Regions from separate parts of the Homo sapiens genome. Here regions 1 and 2 are each reported to be linked to region 3. Evidence: microRNA targets listed by miRTarBase, many of them from high-throughput screens and not tested one by one. Region 3 holds a microRNA gene; each other region holds the end of a gene's coding sequence.

Region 1 (3,000 bases), not on the chromosome of region 3:
CGTTGGGGTCTTTCTTGGCAAGCTGTGGGCTCATGGTGAGGGGACAAGCAGGGCCCACTGACATTAACTGAAAAAAGCATGTGGTGGAGAGGCAGGCAGGCAGGCAGGCAGGCCGGACCCAGGAACCAGCCCAGGAGGCAGGCCCATCACACTCTGGCTTTCCCTCTCCTACCCACCTGCCCCAAGTCCTCACTCCCAAGAGGAGAGCAGATATTAAAAGCCAGCCAGAAGGGACTCTCAGGCCAGGATCTCTTTCTGGCTCCTGCAGTTTTCAAACTCCCTAGAGTACCCTAGTCCTCAAAGACAAATGACCTATGTATACAAGGAGGAAAGTAAAAATAATACCGCCGGACACCGATAACCACAGTAACCTTAGTTACTCCCATGCTAACACTGCTGCCTTACAGTCTTAAGTCTAAAGATATATCTGTCACCCTCCCACCACCTTGGGGAACAACCCAGGGCCGGCTTCCACGCTGCCCACGAAACTCCCATACCACATTGTCCAATGCCTCCCTCGGCCCTGGACGGAGGAGACCCACGAGGGTGGATGTTTTCCTGCCCTCGAGGAAACGGAAAATCTTTTTAGCAGCTGAGGTCCAAGCCCAACTGGCTCTGATAACCTTTGGTTAAAATAAAAATTCAACAACAATAACAACAAGAATCAGGTATGTTTGAACCCTGTAACCTTTAGAACAAGGGTGAGTGAGGAGAGAGAAGGGCCGTCTCTCTTCCAAAACCATTGTCCCTCCAAGTACCTGTCAAAGGGAACTGTTTGGCTAACAAGAGATGCTGACTATGGAAGTGTCACAGCCAGACTGCCACAGGGGACCCGTGGGAGGTGCCCCCAGCAAAAGAAAACAAAGGAAAAAACTCATGACGAAGGCCACCAAATCGTGATAAATTACATCACACATAGTCACTAACACATTCTCACGCTCTCTCTCTCTCTCTACATATATCTTTTATGTACAGTATTTTTAAGACTGTAACACAGGTGGGGGAAACAGAAAAGAGAGAAGAGCCTTAAAGGCCACGGACCCCTGGGGACCACAATCCCAGTCAAACCCAGAGCCCCCTCCTTCTGCCTCCAGGCAAGGCAGAGGGACCCAAGTTCTAGTCCTTGGGCACATTTTGCTACCTTGACCACTAGAGGGAGCTCCTGGGACAATAAAAAATTAAAATTGGCAACAGACCCACTGCAGTAGGCTTAAAAAATAATAATAAAGCAAAGCCTGCTCAGCTGGCTCCAAGCTGAGATTTGGAAGGGGGCCACACAGTGCCCTTCAACGCAGTCCCACTCAAGCCATTCAAGTCTTGGGGGATGCTGGCTCAGATCAATACCCCGACTGGCCAGTCGAGGGAACTGCTGAGAGCGGCTTGCGTGTGTCGAGGAGCAGAAAGAGGATGGCCCTCACTCCAGCTCCTGCACTGCCAGCAGCCCACCCTGCTTCTCTCCTGCCAGCAGCCAAAAGCAGGCAACTGCCGGACAGTCCTAACCCAAGGCGGGTAGAAGGGAGCAGAGACCAGGCCTGGCCCCTTCAGACTTTCTCACAGAGAAATTACAGATCTCTAAGCCTCTATTGTTGGCTGGCGAGGGAGGGAAGAACATCAAGTTATCAGGGAAATCAAGGATCCCTCCGCCCCCGCCCTGAACCCAGAGGTCCGGAAGGAAGCAAGCGGTCAGGGAGGCCAGTGCCTTGCGGGAACCCCAGCCTCATGACCAACCTCGGCCAAACCCACACTACCCAGTCAGTGCTGCCACACAGATCACCCTAACCCCGGCCTCTCTCCCAGCTCCAGGGGGAAGCCAGGAGCCCAGGAGAGGTCCTGCCTTCCACAATGATATAAGGCAAGCTGCTTTTGTTGTTTGTTTTGTTTTTTGCATAGTAGTTTAAACACAGTGAGGCTCTGCCTTCCCCTCACAGTGCCTTGTCCCTTCAACTTTGCCACTCGATCCCCCCAAAAAATTAAAATGTGTCCTCCTTCCCTTCCTTCCACCTTTCTCTCCTTCAGGGAGTGAGAAAATTGGGGTGGTCCCTACCCAGGCCTAGAAAGCTCACAGAGGCAAGCGGCTCCTTCCTGGGGGTTGGCAGAGCACCCCAAGCTCCAGGCCGAGTCTGGGCTGGCTCAGGAGGAAGGGAGGGCATAGCCCATGGCCAATCAGAGGAGCAGGTGGGACGGACGGCAGAAACCACATTACACCACGGCCGGTTGGCCCGGCCCTCAGCTTAGAGTTCTGTATAAAAACACCTGCTAGGAATAATTCTTTGGAGCTCAAAGTGGCTCAGCTTAAGGGAGAAGGCACAGTTAACACTGCAAAGTCCGCACAGAAGTCTGCATTTGTAATGTGGAGAACAATAGAAATTGACAGCACCATTCCTTGGGTGGGTGGGGGATGGAGACGGGGCACCCGTTGGTGGTGTGGAAGGAAGGAAGGAAGCAGCAGTCCCTCAGGGCCTCCAGAGAAGGGAGGGCAGAGAAAGTCTGTGTGGTGTGGCTTCGAACCCCACTCCGAGGGGCCTTCCTGGCCCCATGAGGAGAGGTGGCAGGGCCCCATCACCAAGACCACCAGGCTCGCAGGGCCTCAGTCATCAGCTGACCATGGGCTCCACATCCGCCTCGCGCTCGAACTCATCCTGGATCTCATCTGTACTTCCTGAGTCGCTGCTGGCCACGGAGCTGGGGGACGGTGAATTCCTGAGAAGCACAAGAGAGTGGGGAAATTCAGAGAGCAGCCCTGGGCCTCTGAAGGGTCAAGGAGTGGGAAGGCTGAGCTGCCACTTCTATAAGATCTACTCTCAGAGGGGCCTGGTCCTGAGCTCCTGCCTCACTCAGCTATCCTTAAGATCCTTTAAGCTCACGAGGTAACCCCCTGCACCAGCCCCTACTTGGTCTGGCTGTGTTGGCTTCTCTAGGAAGAAAGCCCCTTGGGAGCTGGACCGTGGATCAAGTTTGGCTGTTACTCTCCAAGCACCTAACCCATGTCTGGGCATATAG
Region 2 (3,000 bases), not on the chromosome of region 3:
GGGGTGGCGCAGGTGGATCCTTTTCCCAGGAATCTCTTGGTGCCCTGACTTGTCTAAGCTCCACACGTCTGTGTGGTAGGTGTGAGTGGCTGGAGAGATTATCACTCTAACCTCCCCAAGTAACCAGCAAGGAAATTCACATCCAGAGAGGGGTGCTGACTTGCTCAAAGTGGGACAGCTTGCAGGGCAGGGGCAGACCAGAACCCAGGTCTTTGGTCTCTGGCACCAGGTCATGTTATCGTGGGTGGCACTGAGCCTGCAGCTCTCCACTTGGGGTCTGTCTTGAGGGCTCTGAGGAACACAGGCAGAATGCTTAGCCCCTCTGGGGCCCCTCGGATGTTCCACTGTTTACTAGGGACCAGAACAGCCCCAGTCTGGAAAAAGCCCTTGGAGTGCCCTGGGGAGGGCGGTGGTGGCCGGGGCTCTGGCCCTGTGGGTGTCTCTGTAGCAGAGCAGCTGAGCTTGGGGGCCTGGCTGTTCCACAGGAGGGTGTGTGTGTGTGTGCACGCACACAGCATGTCGCATGGCGAGGTGGAAGAGGAAGGGCGGGAGAGATGAGTGAGTGTGTGCCATGATAAACTGCAGGTGGGACCAGCCTGTGGGCAGCGTCCCTCTGAGGGCAGCAAAAAGAGACGTCAAATTCAACCAGGGCAGTGTCACATCATGGACACGCTTTTGAACCAGCAAGACCAGTGGTCTGCCCCTCTTCACCAGTAGACCTCTCTAAGCCTCAGTTTCCACATCTGTGAAGAGAGGACATGTTCCCTCCCTCAGAGGGTTTCAGTGGGTAGTTGAGGTAATGGATGGACCTCAACCCACACGGTGCCTGCCGTGGGGTACAGGGGGCAGGAACTGCGCTGGGCTGGCTCCTCGGCACAGGACACAGGGCCTGGCATTATTTGGAACTGGGCTGAACGGCAGAGTGCCGCAGTGTTGGTGGGCAGGGCAAAGGCAAGAGTGAATCCCCCAGGCCACACCCTCCCCCTCCCCTAATCTGCATCACCATTAGCCAGGGCCACCTCTGGGACACAGCCTGGACCAGAGGCCCCAGGAGGGGCAGGGTGGGACCCCTGCCAAGGAACCACTGGTCGTGAGCTTGAAGCCCATCCACTCCCCTAGGGCCTGGGGCACTCGCCCCACCTTGCCTTGCCCTTCACACCTCCTCTCCCTCTCCCTGCAGGAGCACAGGCCACCACACACACCACCAGAGCCAGATCCAGAGCCCCTGAGCGTGGTCCTGTTAGGACGGCAGGCAGGCGCAAGTGGACAGCTGGAGGGGCCATCCTACACCAACGCTGGCCTGGACACCACGGACCTGTGACAGGGGCCCCCACTCTTCTGGACCCCTTGAAGAGGCCCTACCACACCCTAACTGCACCTGTCTCCCTGGAGATGAAAATATATGACGCTGCCCTGCCTCCTGCTTTTGGCCAATCACGGCAGACAGGGGTTGGGGAAATATTTTATTACCAATGTATACTGTGACAGTTTGTAGCCAAAAACTGCGGCTGGAGGGGTGGGGACGGGACACTGAGTGGTCACAAGGGACTTGGGCTCACAGCACAGGGGGGACAAGGGGCTGGAGAGGGTGGCCTTTAAAAGACAACTGTGGTTATAGAATGAGCTCTCTGTCCTGTCCCCAATACCCAAGAACACCGGTCACCCAGGATGCCAGGGCCCAAGAGCTTCTGTGAGCCCAGCTGTGACCTCCAGACCTTCCTGAGACCCTCTGGCCTTTCTGTGACTCTCTCTCAGCTGAGCCCCCAGGGTACTTCCTGTAGCTGTCTTTGGCCTCTCTGGGAATCTCAAACCTGTGACTCAGTGGGAGAGGGGATGGGGCTGGAACCAGGCGGGTGGGAGATAGGAACTGGGGAAGGACCACCAACAGCATGCAAGAGACGCCCCGGCCACGGGGCCAGCCACTGCGTGGAGACGCTCACACTCGTTCTACCTCACGTGCTGCCCGAGACCTCACATTCAGAGACGTGCCCACTCGCGGGTCTCACACACCGATCCTCACCCACTTGAAGCTTCTGCCACTCAGACTTGTATGCAGTCTCTCCCTGTTCTGGGGATCTGGCCCCACCGGAGACCACAACGCACCAGTCTAGACATCTCAGGAGCCTGCCCCAGCTCTCAGGGGGTGGGAGGTGAGGGTGCTGAGCAGGCCCCCGTGGTCGCCCAGTGTGACCGGGAGTAGAGCTGAGGGCTGTGAGGGGACAGTGGGGCGTCAGGGCTGGCCGGGTTCGTGGCCTCGTGGCCACGAGGGAGCTTGGTAGAAGGGGTTCTTCTGTATTTGTGATGGGAGGGGCTGGAAAGACGGGGACGCAACAGCCCTAGAGGCTGCACAACCCCTCGGAGGCCTGTGGCACGCAGAGGGGACCCCTTCTAGGGGCCTGTGATCAAGAAGGGAGCCTGAGAAGGTCGGAAACTCGGGCGTACAAAATGGGGGCAGATCACTCGGCCGTGGGTCCCGCCCGCGAGCAGCACCGCGGCCGGCGCACACTCTGCAGCAGCGCGCGGAACAGGCCGGGCGGACGCTTGGCGGCGCCATCTGGGGGCGCGGTGCGCACCGAGCCCGAACGGCCGGGGCCGGCACGGGCGGCGGGCGGCGGCGCGGGCGCCCCTTGGCGGCCGTGCTCCTCGATCTGTCGCTCCAGATGCTTCTGGATGGCCATGCCCAGCACCTCCACCTCCATGGCGGCGCCGTATACCTCCCACGTCATGCCCTTCTCGTCCCAGCTCACGTCTCGCACGGGCTCAGCCGGCTCCGGGGGCGCTACAGCGGCCGCCAGCGCTGAGCCGGGCCGCACCCGCACTTCGGGGAAGGCGGGCGGCGCGGCGGCTTGAGGTGTCATGGGCCCAGTGGCCACGGAGCGCGTCTCGGCGGCGCCCAGCGACACCTGCAGGCCCGCATCTCGGCGCGAGGGCGGGCTGGGCGCGCGCGGCGCCGCCTGGAAGCTGAAGGCCGAGCCCCCAGCGCCGTCCTGCGGAGACATG
Region 3 (3,342 bases):
GTGTTTTGCACAGAGACACTCCTAGTAAGCCCTGAAGAAATGAGAGCTATGCTTTTGATTATTAATATTCTTATAATCCAAAGGATGATGCAGGATTTTTTAAATCTTTCCACATGTATGTTTTTGGACCAGTCCAAAAAAGAATTGGAAACACACTTATGCCGCATAAAGACAGAGTTATGAGGAACTATAAAAACAAAATAAAACCTTTGGAGAATCAACTGCAAAGACATGTATTCTGTTTTTATTATAGTTCTGAGCCCAACAGTGTCTCACCAGGTGACTACCTGAGATATCCAACATCATATGTCCACCAGAGGGTGGGGAACACTCAGCCCCTTTTTATCAACACCTTCACTGTCCAGCCAGCCCCTAACTGGCCCCTTTCTGTCTGAAGGAGGTGGCTGAGTCTCTGGGCCGGACTCTCCGCTCCTCCCAGCCGCCTCTGCCTATCCATCCCATGGCCACCTGAGCCGCTCTCCACACTCTTGAACCCAGAGCCAAGACACACAAGTGCTGAGTCTCATCAGTAACTGCAATCTCATGAAAGCACTCTTGGGCCTCAGTCACCTTGAAGAGCAGGAAAGGCTCTGAGGGGACATTCATTCCACCCATCATCTCAGGTTCCAGTTTGCTTTAAAGGAAACTGAGGCATCGTAAAAGTTAAAGACATGTGGAGGATCATACCAGAAGTTGAGAGCCCAGCCAATCTAAGTGCTGGGACTTTCACAGTTGTCAGGGGGCATTACAGCTGTATATTCAAAGCCTCAACTGTATCTTGCAATCACCTGGCACAGCTACAGTGCCCAGGCCACACCCTGGACCAATTAAATCAGAATCTCTGGGAATGAGATCCAGGCATCAGTATCAGATAGCCAAGCTTATATACTCCTGCATTAAAGTGAGAAGGCCCCCATGTGAACACTAAATGCCTTAATTCACATTATTTTTGCACGGTTCTCAAACCTACTCTTGCCCAGCCACATCCTGAAGATTCTGATGTAATTTGCCATGCATCAGGACCCTTCAAAACTCCCAGGTGACTCCAACAAGCAGCTAAGGCTGAGAACCACTGTGTTCATCTACCACCTTCATTTAACTTTAAAACTGTATTTACTCTTTAAGTAAAATCATAATATTTAATTGCAGAAAAGAAAAGAAAAAAGTACCTGTTCAGCTGAGATGCAATCCATTGCATGTTAATCTGTATTCACATTCCAGGAAATAGAAGCATTTGTAGTTACAGGAATTTTTATCTGTGGTTTTACATCTTTACACACAGGTGTATAGACTTGCTTATGTGTCAGTCCGTTACTGCAATGTGCCAATTAAGACATTTATTGAGTTTGATTTGGTATAAGTAATTATGAGTTATAAAAGATCATTCTGAATCAACAACGTAATAAATAACCATCTTTAATGTAATAGAATATAAGTTTAGTTAGAGTCATGAAACCTTCTGTCTCAGCACATGGTTCCTATAAACCGAAAAAGACAAAAGCATTTGGTGAGTAGCTGTCAGCTGAAGAAAATGTCTGGAAAGGGACTTTCCCTCAAATCAGACGGAAATTCCTGCTCTCCCTTTTTTTTTTTTTAAGCAAGAGTACCTAAAATTCCAAAAAGTCCTATACCCCTTTATTCACCTTATAAAGAAGTCTGTGGAATAAGCCCCCTTCCCTCACCAACCACCCAACCGCTTTTCTCAAGGGGAGACCCTAAACCCAGTCGCAGAGAGCACATTTTGAATAAGCAAAGTGGAGATCTCACTGACAAAACACAAAGGCTACCCCAGCATCCTCAGGCAGGGGGCGCATACCTGGGCCCCCTATGCCCAAGGTCTCCTCCTGGAATCCCCTGCTGTCCTCGGGCACCCAGAGCGGGAACGCCAGGTTTTCCCCATCACGCAAGTGCAGGCGGCGCGGGGGTTCCGGAGGCTGTGAGTGTCAATCACCTACCCTTATCAGTTCTCCGTCCAACACTTACAGTCACAAAGCTGGGCTGGAAAAGTGATAAGGGGACGTGACTGGCCGGCAAAGAAGTTTTGATGAAGCTTTGCAGGACAAGATGTAAATGGACGTTTGATTTCCCGGCGAGCCCTCCCCGCCCCCTCTCTGCAGTTCCTCCTCTGCCTCAAATTCAAAGCCCCTCTGTGCCCTTCTACTTTGCTCTGGCCTCTCGCCCCAGTCTCTCCCTCTGACACCTGGAGAGTCACTTATGTTTCTGCACACAGAAATTCAGACATGCAGCTCTGGACAGCTATGGAAAGTAATAGGTTCTTTGCATTAAAAAAAATCAATTAAAAATAGAAATTAATTTAAATTTTAAAATTAATAAATAAGCCGAAGTTAGTGAAGTCTTTACCCAGTGGCTCTTGCAGGTCTGAGGCCCCAGCCCAGCAGGTCCTGCTCCTCCCCAGGGCTCTGGGCTAAGCCCACACCCACATGCCATTCATAAAGTCCCTACAGCAAGTCTCCTCCTCCAACCAGGATTGGTCCTCCAGAGAGGCTGGCCCCAGGCCAGGACCCATCAGCCACAAATCTGCGAGCTGGATGTGTCCACTGTGCTGCGTGGCCTTGATGGGATTAGGCCAGGGTGGAGTTTGGTTCCAAAGGTAAGCGCGTTCTCATGTATCCAAGCTCTCTGCCCCATCATGTCAGATTCTTCCGTCTTAACTGTTTGACCTTCCACGCTGATTCATACAGAGTCTTTGAAAACCAAAAACTATTGACATGGCTTCAAATGTGGAGGTCTTAACATGATTCTGTGTATCGGAATGAAACCAAAGAAAACCCGTCCAGATTTCAGAAATGGATTTCTGTATAGTATTACACTGTGGGACGACCACCAACTTTGGATCCCATCTGCTTGCCACTTCCTGGTTGTGTAACCCTGAGAAAATTACTGAATCTCTCTGAGCCTTGATTTCCTGATATACTAAACAGAGATAGTACCTCCTTAACTCCCAGGATTGCTGTGGGAAGTAAGCGAGAAAACGGATGGAAAGAGCTTATGCTCACCCCTAGGTTTAAATCCCAGGTCAGCCACCTCCTGGTTACATAGCTTCAGCAGGTCTTATAAACTCTCCAAATCTCAGTGATTTATTCGGCAAAATGTGGGTTATAAAAGCTACCTCAAAGGGTTGTTTTGAGGATTAAAATATTCAATATAAGGTTAAGGGCTTGGTCTTTATAGTAAAACTGGTCTGGATTTAAATCCTGAATTTGTCATTTGCTGGTTCATTGACAGAGAATCACTCAGCCTCTCAGATCCGTTTCCAGATCTGCAAAATGGCTGTGATCACCCAAATTTACAGGGTTGTGGTAAAAGTTCAATTAGATGAGC

Evidence for each region. Region 3 holds the annotated microRNA hsa-miR-184 (UGGACGGAGAACUGAUAAGGGU, at 1,954-1,975, opposite strand). A microRNA usually pairs through its seed, bases 2 to 8, with sites in the 3' UTR of a target mRNA and lowers its output. Matches are read on the target gene's strand: a 7mer-m8 pairs with bases 2 to 8, a 7mer-A1 pairs with bases 2 to 7 and ends in A, and an 8mer does both.
Region 1: the mRNA of IFFO2 is a reported target of hsa-miR-184. Seed matches in the 3' UTR shown: 7mer-m8 at 2,179-2,185 and 8mer at 525-532.
Region 2: the mRNA of GPRIN1 is a reported target of hsa-miR-184. The part of its 3' UTR that is shown has no 7-base or 8-base seed match.

Annotation. Positions count from the first base shown.
Region 1 is chr1:18,905,967-18,908,966 of GRCh38, forward strand. IFFO2 (intermediate filament family orphan 2) reads right to left here. Exons shown (of 9, transcript NM_001136265.2): 9 at 1-2,700. The coding sequence ends at 2,595. Among named protein-coding and RNA genes, the nearest start is that of ALDH4A1, 4.9 kb to the left of the region's middle.
Region 2 is chr5:176,594,352-176,597,351 of GRCh38, forward strand. GPRIN1 (G protein regulated inducer of neurite outgrowth 1) reads right to left here. Exons shown (of 2, transcript NM_052899.3): 2 at 1,451-3,000. The coding sequence ends at 2,457. CDHR2 (cadherin related family member 2) reads left to right here. Exons shown (of 32, transcript NM_017675.6): 32 at 1,181-1,473. The coding sequence ends at 1,321. Among named protein-coding and RNA genes, the nearest start is that of GPRIN1, 14 kb to the right of the region's middle. RefSeq lists silencers at 2,524-2,683, 2,824-2,913.
Region 3 is chr15:79,208,473-79,211,814 of GRCh38, reverse strand. MIR184 (microRNA 184) reads right to left here and starts at 2,027; the gene lies at 1,944-2,027. The region is part of intron 1 of ANKRD34C-AS1 (ANKRD34C antisense RNA 1); the gene reads left to right.